2 separate regions of the Homo sapiens genome follow, and region 2 is linked to region 1. The links come from fine-mapping of genetic effects on gene expression. Tissue or cell type: iPS cells. Region 1 holds a variant in brackets; the other region holds the start of a gene. All regions are shown on one strand. Distances are between the middles of the regions.

The links. PIP is the estimated chance that this variant, and not a neighbour inherited with it, causes the effect.
Region 2: it holds the start of PEX7, and the variant in region 1 is fine-mapped to the expression of PEX7 in iPS cells (iPSCORE, PIP 0.95).

The regions. Positions count from the first base shown.
Region 1 is chr6:136,899,049-136,903,312 of GRCh38, forward strand. All of the region lies in intron 9 of PEX7 (peroxisomal biogenesis factor 7), which reads left to right. It also overlaps the pseudogene RPL7AP37. Among named protein-coding and RNA genes, the nearest start is that of SLC35D3, 21 kb to the right of the region's middle. The variant T/A (reference allele first, on the strand shown) is at 2,201.
Region 2 is chr6:136,820,653-136,824,777 of GRCh38, forward strand. PEX7 (peroxisomal biogenesis factor 7) reads left to right here and starts at 1,940. Exons shown (of 10, transcript NM_000288.4): 1 at 1,940-2,143. The coding sequence starts at 2,014. RefSeq lists enhancers at 1,511-1,660, 1,544-2,276, 2,277-3,009, 2,391-2,550 and a silencer at 1,841-2,220.

The sequences.
Region 1 (4,264 bases):
AATAAATATGTAAGTGTTTTTTTTTTCTTTTCTTTTTTTTTTTTTTTTTTGAGACAGAGTTTCACACTGTCACCCAGGCTGGAGTGCAGTGGTGCAATCTTGGCTCACTGCAACCTCCACCTCCCAGGTTCACACAATTCTCCCACCTCAGCCTCCTAAGTATCTGGGATTACAGGCATGCAACACCACACCCAATTAATTTTTTTTTTTTTTGACAGAGTTTTTGCTCTGTTGCCCAGGCTGGAGTGCAGTGGCGCAATCTTGGCTCACTGCAACCTTCGCCTCCCGGATTCAAGTGATTCTCCTGCCTCAGCCTCCTGAGTAGCTGGGATTACAGGCACATGCCACCATGCCTGGCTTATTTTTTGTATTTTTAGTAGAGATGGGGTTTCGCCATGTTGACTAGGCTGGTCTCAAACTGCTAACCTCAAGTGATCCACCTGCTTTGGCCTCCCAAAGTGCTGGGATTACAGACATGAACCACCGTGCCTGGCCTAATCTTTATATTTTTAGTAGAGATGGGGTTTCACCATGTTAGCCAGGCTGGTCTCGAACTCCTGACCTCAAGTGATCCACCCTCCTCGGCCTCCCAAAGTGCTGGGATTACAGGCATGAGCTCTCAGCCTATGAGTTTTTCATTTTAGGAATTAAAGATGTAATTCTGAGTTTAAACGATTCTCATTTGGTATTAGAATGTTCCCATTAACATTAGAAATAATCATTTAAAATGACTTAATAGGATATAAGAGAAAAAACTGAAATAGTGATGAGTGAAATGGCATTTTTTCAGCATAAATATAATGTGTTTCAAATGAACTAGTTCCTTTTCTGATACATTTATTATAGATGGATTTTAATAAAATAATTGTACCTGTTTTCTATTTTAGTCTTAAAAAGTTACAGTGTACATACTGAAATATGGCACCCCAAACAAAGGATCCTAAGTAAATATTCATTCAATCCTCATCCTTATATATTTCTATTACCTGTCCTCTGTGAGCCCAGACTAGAACCTGTGGCAGCAGCTGCAGCGCCTCCATTTCCTCAGCTATGGCGCTTCCTCGCCCAGGTCTGAAGAATACCAGATGTTTTCTAAATCCTCCACACATAGTAGGCCTACCTTATTAAAAGCAACTTTGTGATGAGAGGACTTAATCAGAGGACATACATCCCTAAGTAATAGATTTTATTCAAATTAAGATGGTGATCTCAACCAGTATTTTAAACACAAACATTTGAGTTGTGTATATTATTAATTTATATATTTTTCAAAGGATAATTTGTATTATTTTAATTATTTTTATGTACAGAAAACTCAACCGTGTACATTTAATCCAGTTTAGTGGCAGGTTCTTTAGCCTTTGCCTTTTCCAGCTTGGCAGTGTGAGCCACAGACTTGGGACCAAGGACATTGCCCCCCCAGTGACAGCAGATCTCATCGTGTCTGTCATTGTAATTGGTCCTGATAGCTTCCACCATCTTAGCCAAAGCCCTTTTGTCTTCCGAGTTAATCTGTGTGAAGGTGATGGTGGTGTGGGTCATCCTGTGAACCAGTCTTGCCTTTCCCTTGACAGCGCAGTCAGGGACCCCCATTTTATGAGACAGGGCAGGCAGGAAGACAACCAGCTTGATGGGATCCACGTCATGTGCAGTCACCGCCAGCTGAGCCTTCTTCTTCTCCACCAAGGTGGTGACGGTGTTAACCCCAGCTTGAAGGACAGGTGGTCTCTTAGTGGGGACATCCCCTTTGCCAACAGCTTTCTTCTCAGCCTGGGCCAAGTCTCTGCCTCTTCTCTTGCTTTGTCTCTGGTCTGTATTATGGGCCAGCTTATGTAGTTGAGTAGCTGTTTGGTGGTCCCAGGGCCTGGGTGAACTGGTTCATCACAGGAGGCACTTTTAGGCTCTTGTAGAGGATAACTCTTTGCTGCTGCAGCCTGACATAGTGGGGCCATTTCACAAAGTGGGTGAGGTCCCTTTTGGGCTGGATGTCCTGTCCAGTGCCAGAATTCTTAGGCCTTTACTCAACAGGGGATTCACCACTTTCTTGGCCTGTTGCTTCAAGATAGCAGGGGCTGGGGCCCCGTCTTGCCCTTGGTCTTCTTTCGGCATCTTGGGCAGCTATAGGAGAGAGATAATTTGTATATTTACAAGTCACATCAAACTCTTTTCTAGGGGAGATATGAATCAAGTTCTACATGTA[T/A]CTCCATGTTTTTCCCTCTCACTTTTGTCAGTTATCTATTACTGTGTAATGAACAACTTCCAGGACTTAGTGGCGTAAAACAACAATTTTATTTGCTCACAATTCTGTGAGTCAGCAATTTGGACCAGACACACCCTAGCAGTTCTTCTTTTGGTCTTTCCTGTGGCCACCCATGTGGTTCCAGCCATCTGGTGGCTTAACTAGGGCCGGGTGGTCCTATTAGGCCTCGTTCAATGTGTCTGGTGGATAGTGCTGGTTGTCTTCCAGGCCGTGTGTCTCTAGGTATGCCCAGGTCTCTGCACTTAACAGTTGTGTGTTTACAAGAGGGCAAGAGCAAAAGCTGCAAGTCATCTTGAGAATTGGACTTGGAAGCCACACAGCATTCCTTCTGTTGCAAAGCAAGTTGCAAGGCCAGCCCAGATTCAAAGAGTGGGAAATAGACTGTACCGTTTGATGGGAGGACCTGTGAAGAATTCATAGTCACTTAAAATCTGCCACACTAACCTGTGTTGGTATAGTAGGTGGTTTAAGTTTTATTTTTGTTTGTTTGTTTTGAGATGGAATGTTGCTCTTGTTGCCCAGGCTGGAGTGCAATGGCGTGATCTCGGCTCACTGCAGCCTCCGTCTTCTGGGTTCAAGCAATTCTCCTGCCTCAGCCTCCTGAGTAGCTGGGATTACAGGCATGTGCCACCACGCCCAGCTAATTTTGTATTTTTAGTAGAGATGGGGTTTCTCTATGTTGGCCAGGCTGGTCGCAAACTCCCGACCTCAGGTGATCCGCCCACCTCAGCCTCCCAAAGTGCTGAGATTACAGGCGTGAGCCACTGCGCCCAGCCAAGTTATTTTTAACATACTATATTTATCCTTTAGTCTCATAATGTGTCAGATTTACAGATTGTAAGTTAATTTAATTTTACTCTTTGATCATTTTTTATTCCCTTAGAAAGTATCTTTCTCTCACCTCTTAGTGTCTTTCCATCTGCTTTCATATACCTATTGTCTTTTGTGATCTTAGCAGCTGTAGGACCTTGCTGATGTTACTTTAAGGCTCTGTGTTTTTATATATTCTCAGTCTTAAAAGAGATTTATCTGAGTTCTTCTGTGTATAATTCTTTTTCTTTTTAGCTTCTCCTTTCTTAGAGATCTGAGAAATGAGGTCAAGGGCATTCATATATTACACCACCTTTCTTCTTAACAGAATGTAAGATCTTGTCTTTAAAAGTTTAAAACTTGACAAATAAATGTCTGGGGTCATTCTTTAAGGATAATTGCTGAGAAATGCTCTATGCCCTCTCTTGTTAACCAGGCTGAAGGCATCGTTTTCTTTGAAAATTTTTTTTTTCTGATCATGATTTGTACAGTTCTGACATTTTATCTTTTCTTTCTTATCCTTCTTATTTCTAAATTAGATACTCTTTTTCTTTTTGTAGACTTGTGATTCTAGACCTATAATACACCTATTTATATAACTGGAATTTCTATATTAGTTTAGAATTCCTGACTTTGTGTTCTGCAGTATCAATTCTGCTCTTCCAAATGCTCAGTGATGTTTAGTTTAGTATTTATAAGCTGGATACAAGTTTACATATCTTTATACATTCTTTTGGGGGCATAGTTATTTATTATTTTAATCTCTTTTAAAGTAAACGCTACCACTTTCAGATGTCGCTGCTGTATGTTTAATAAGCTTTAATGTTTTCCTCATGACAAAATTTTGGAAATTACATTTAGAAGAAAGAAAAAAGATTACCTCTAGTTTCCCCACTTGAGAAAGAATCTCTTATACCATATTATTATGTTTCTTTTAAAAATCTCTGTTTTACCATATTATTATGTTTCTTAGATTTAATTGAAATGTAAATTTATATTTTAAAATGCACATATTTTTAAGTGTACAGCTCAATTAGTTATCCAGAAGTGACTACCCCTGTATAACCACTATCCACGTTGAGATACAGAACATCGCTTGCATTCCAGAAGCCTCTTCCCAAATCTGAACCCCTCCTTCCCAGTGGTAGCCACCCATCCAGTCTCTGTCTGTGTGTGTATTTTTCAAAGTTTGGG
Region 2 (4,125 bases), 78 kb before region 1:
AGGTAAGGAGCAGGTAATAGCTCAGTTTGTGTGTGTGTGTGTATGTCCAAGGTCACTGTAAATAGTTTACCCCAGCTGGAACCAGCCTTTCTCCCTCCCAGAGATACCACACTATTTTTAGCTTAGATTGGATAACTCTTTATATACAACTCTTTGCCAAGGTCCCAGCTGCTTCATGTTTGCTTACTTTGATATTTTATTAACGCCTATTTAGCATTTCAATAAACTCCAGAATGTTTCCAGGTTACTTTTTGTAGTATTACGAAAAACACACTGATCATTTAGGCACTGTATTAGGCTGCATTCACTCAACATTTCCTGAATGCTTAAATACCAGGTCCTTGGGATACAACAGCGAACATAACAAGCAAAAATTTCTGCCCTCATGCAGCATACATTCCAGTGACTACATATGATAAAAATCCAAAATAATAGAGGCCACACTGGTCTGGATCCTCAAGTGATCCGCCTGCCTCGGCCTCCTAGTGTGCTGGGATTACAGGTGTGAACCACCGCGCCCGGCCTGCAAAAGTCTTTTAACTGGCCTCCCCATCTCCAAACTCTATCCTCCATATTAGTGTTGCAGGACTTTTTAAAATAAAACCTTGGTCATTTAATTTCTCACATTAGAAAACTTCCACTGTTTTTCACTGTTTACAGTAGAAATCCAATTCTCTTAGTATGGTATATAAGACTCTTCATGATCTAGCCCCAGTAAAACACTCTACAGTCTCCCCACCCAATATTTTTTTCACCGTATCCCTTCCATCTGGCCAGGCTGAGTCCTGGCAGCCACGACCCCCTATGGATCATGCTGGTTTAAATCTCCTGGGTTGCTCATGTTATTCCTGCTCCTACAAAGATCTCCATCTTCTTGTCTACCTAAAGAAAACCTACTCATCTGTGTGCAATCACCATAAAGACTTATCTCTCTTCTGCAGCCTTTCCTGCAATTTCCATACCTCTGGCACGGACAATCACCTTTTAAAAATACCCCATATAAATTTATCATAGCCTCTACAGTATTTTGATTACACTTAACTAATTACATGACTTCTCTTTTAGTCTTCTTCTCTAATCTCTTGAGGCCATGGACCATATCCCATTATTTTGAATCCCAAATGCCTAGTACTGTTCTTGGTATATGGTTAAGATGATCATACGACTTGGTTTGTGCCTGTTGACCTGGCTTAATAATTACACCCTCTTTACTCTCAAAAGTATCTTGGTTTGGCAGATAAATTATATTTGGTCATTCTCCACATAGTATATGCCTGGCAATAAATGAATGAATGAGCACCAGCATCTGAGCACTTATTACCATACAATATATACATGTATAGTAATACTTTTTAAAAAAGTTGTATATGATGATGTGCTGCTTTTTTGCTTAGCTTCATTAGAACTGGCCAGCTCCTTTTTCTCACTTGCCAAGCATGGGGAGTTGGTTTGGAGTTGGTGTTTCATCTTTTCCAGTTACAGTGTGAAAGTAGCCCACCAGCCCACGCTCTTATTCCTAAAGACCGCAGTGACTCCACGGACTTAAGTTCTCATTGCTTCCAGTTTCCTTGGGCAACGCAGCACGCAATTTTGGACGCGCTGCGTGGTTTCAGAGTCGGCTGTAACTTTTCTCACTTTATAATCATCAGGAAAAGTTCCTGATGCCAGTCTTCCAAACGCTCAATGAAATAAAAACCAGATAGCACCGCAGAGGAGGCTGAGATGCAACGACAAAAGCTGTCGTAATTATTAATAATACCTAACCCTGGATCACTCCCCTGATAGATCTGTATCTTTGCAGCAGGCGCAATTCAGTTTGGATTCACCCAAAACAAAAATGGTCTCCGTCGGAGTCAACGCCCTTTCCTGTGCGGACCAATCAGAATCTCAAACACAGGGCACGGGGCCCACACTTCCGTCCGGTCTGCCTGGTCTCTCTAACCGCGCCAGTGTGCCTCCGACTCGGAACGGCTTCCGCGGCCGGGGCAGCGAGGGCCGGGGGCGGCGGGCGGGATGAGTGCGGTGTGCGGTGGAGCGGCGCGGATGCTGCGGACGCCGGGACGCCACGGCTACGCCGCCGAGTTCTCCCCGTACCTGCCGGGCCGCCTGGCCTGCGCCACCGCGCAGCACTACGGCATCGCGGGTGAGGCGGCGCCGCGCAGCTGGGGCCGGGGGGCGGAGGCGGAGGCGGGGGCCAGCCGGGCTCCAGTTCCTCGCGCTCGAGGGAAAGCCCCTCTGAGCGTAGACGGTTCCGCGGGTCCACGCCAGGGGGCAGAAGAGGCGCTGGTCGGCGCTTCTCCTTTCTTTGCCGAGTGCGAGGAGTTGGTCTGAAGCAGGAGTCGATCTTCCAGTTGTGTGCAAGTGCATATACGTGTAGCCTAGTAGCCCGTGTCCTTGTTCCTTGAGACCGCGCTGCCTCCGCCACGTGTCACACGCCCAGGCACACGTCCCCGTAGGGAGAGCCGGGGGAGCCTGCGCGGTCCCTTGGATCGGTCCGCTCGGCACAGCAGTACGGGGAAGACGGTCTGAGCCAGAACCGACCCAGGGCTCGCGAGTTGGCCCACAATTCCCAGTCTGCATTCGAGCACTGAGCTGCGACCTGCGGGCTGGCCTTCCTAAGGACGATGCTCCTGAATGGACGCCTGGAGTCCCACGGGTGACACCATGAAATATATCAAGTTCAGTTCTTACCTGTAGTTGTCTAACGAGGAATGCACACATTCGCAAGTAGGTGTTACAGACTCCAGTTAATTGTCTCCCGTCGCGCGCATTGGCTCAGCCTGTGGTTAAAGCTGCTCAGGAGGCTGAGGCGGGAGGATCGCTTGAGCCCGGGATGTTGAGGCTACAATGAGCTGAGATCACATCACTCTGCCCCAGCCCAGTGAGCTGAGATCACATCACTCCACTCCAGCCTGGGTGACAGACTGAGACCCCGTCTTAAAAAGAAAAAAGGCCAAGCGCCGTGCGGTGGCTCACGTCTGTAATCCCAGCACTTTGGGAGGCCGAGGTGGGCGGATCACTTGAGTTCGGGAGTTCCAGACCAGCCTGACCAACATGGAGAAACCCCATCTCTACTGAAAATACAAAATTAGCCGGGCGTGGTGGCGCATGCCTGTAATCCCAGCTACTCGGGAGGCTGAGGTAAGAGAATAGTTTGAACCCAGGAGGCAGAGGTTGCGGTGAGCCGAGATCGTGCCATTGCACTCCAGCCTGGGCAAGAAGAGCAAAACTCCGTCTCAAAAAAAAGAGTCCATCTAGTCCGTGGACTAGATGAAAAGGCGTAGGTTCATTCTCGCTTTTGCCTTAATTCATGTCCTAGCTATTATACGCACTGAAGCGAGATGCAAAAACTCATTTCATAATGTCAGTGGTCTATTGTATTTTTTTGTTTTGTCCTACAGCAGAAAAAAATGTTACTTCTAAAACTCAGAGAAATACTTGATTTATTTTCATTATTAGCTCTTAGTGCTTGCACATTCAGATTTACATGGCCCACCAGTTAGACTGAAGACTCATGAGTCTATAATGGTAGTAGTTTTCTTTTTTTCTTTTTTCTTTTTCTCTTTAGAGACAGGGTCTCACCCTGTTGCCTAGGTTGAGTAGAGTGGTGCAATCACAGCTCACCGTAGCCTCCACCTCCTGGGCTCATATGATCCTCCTGTCTCAACCTCACCAGTAGCTGGGACCACAGGCATGTACCATCACACCTGGCTAATTTTTGATTTTTTATTTTTGTAGAGACAGGGTATCACTATGTTGCCCAGGCTGGTCCGGAACTGGGTGCAAGCGATCTTCCTGCCTTGGCCTCCCAAAGTGCTGGGATTACAGGCGTGAGCCACTGTGACTGGCCTGTAATGCTACTTAAAATCTTATGCAAAAACTCTTTAAAGGGAATTGGTATTTAAAAAAAAAAATTCAGTCATGTTTAAATAGAAGAGATTTTCCCCCTTGGTCTCTATAAAAAGTAAACATAACTTTTAAAATACAATGGCCCTTTGGTAAAATAATCTTTGACAGGTAACATATTAATACTGTTTTCAGCACTTTATTACCACCAGTTATGTAGTAAATCCCACCAAGTATCTCCGCATTCATATTTTGTTTTAAAATCCTGTGTGAGATGTG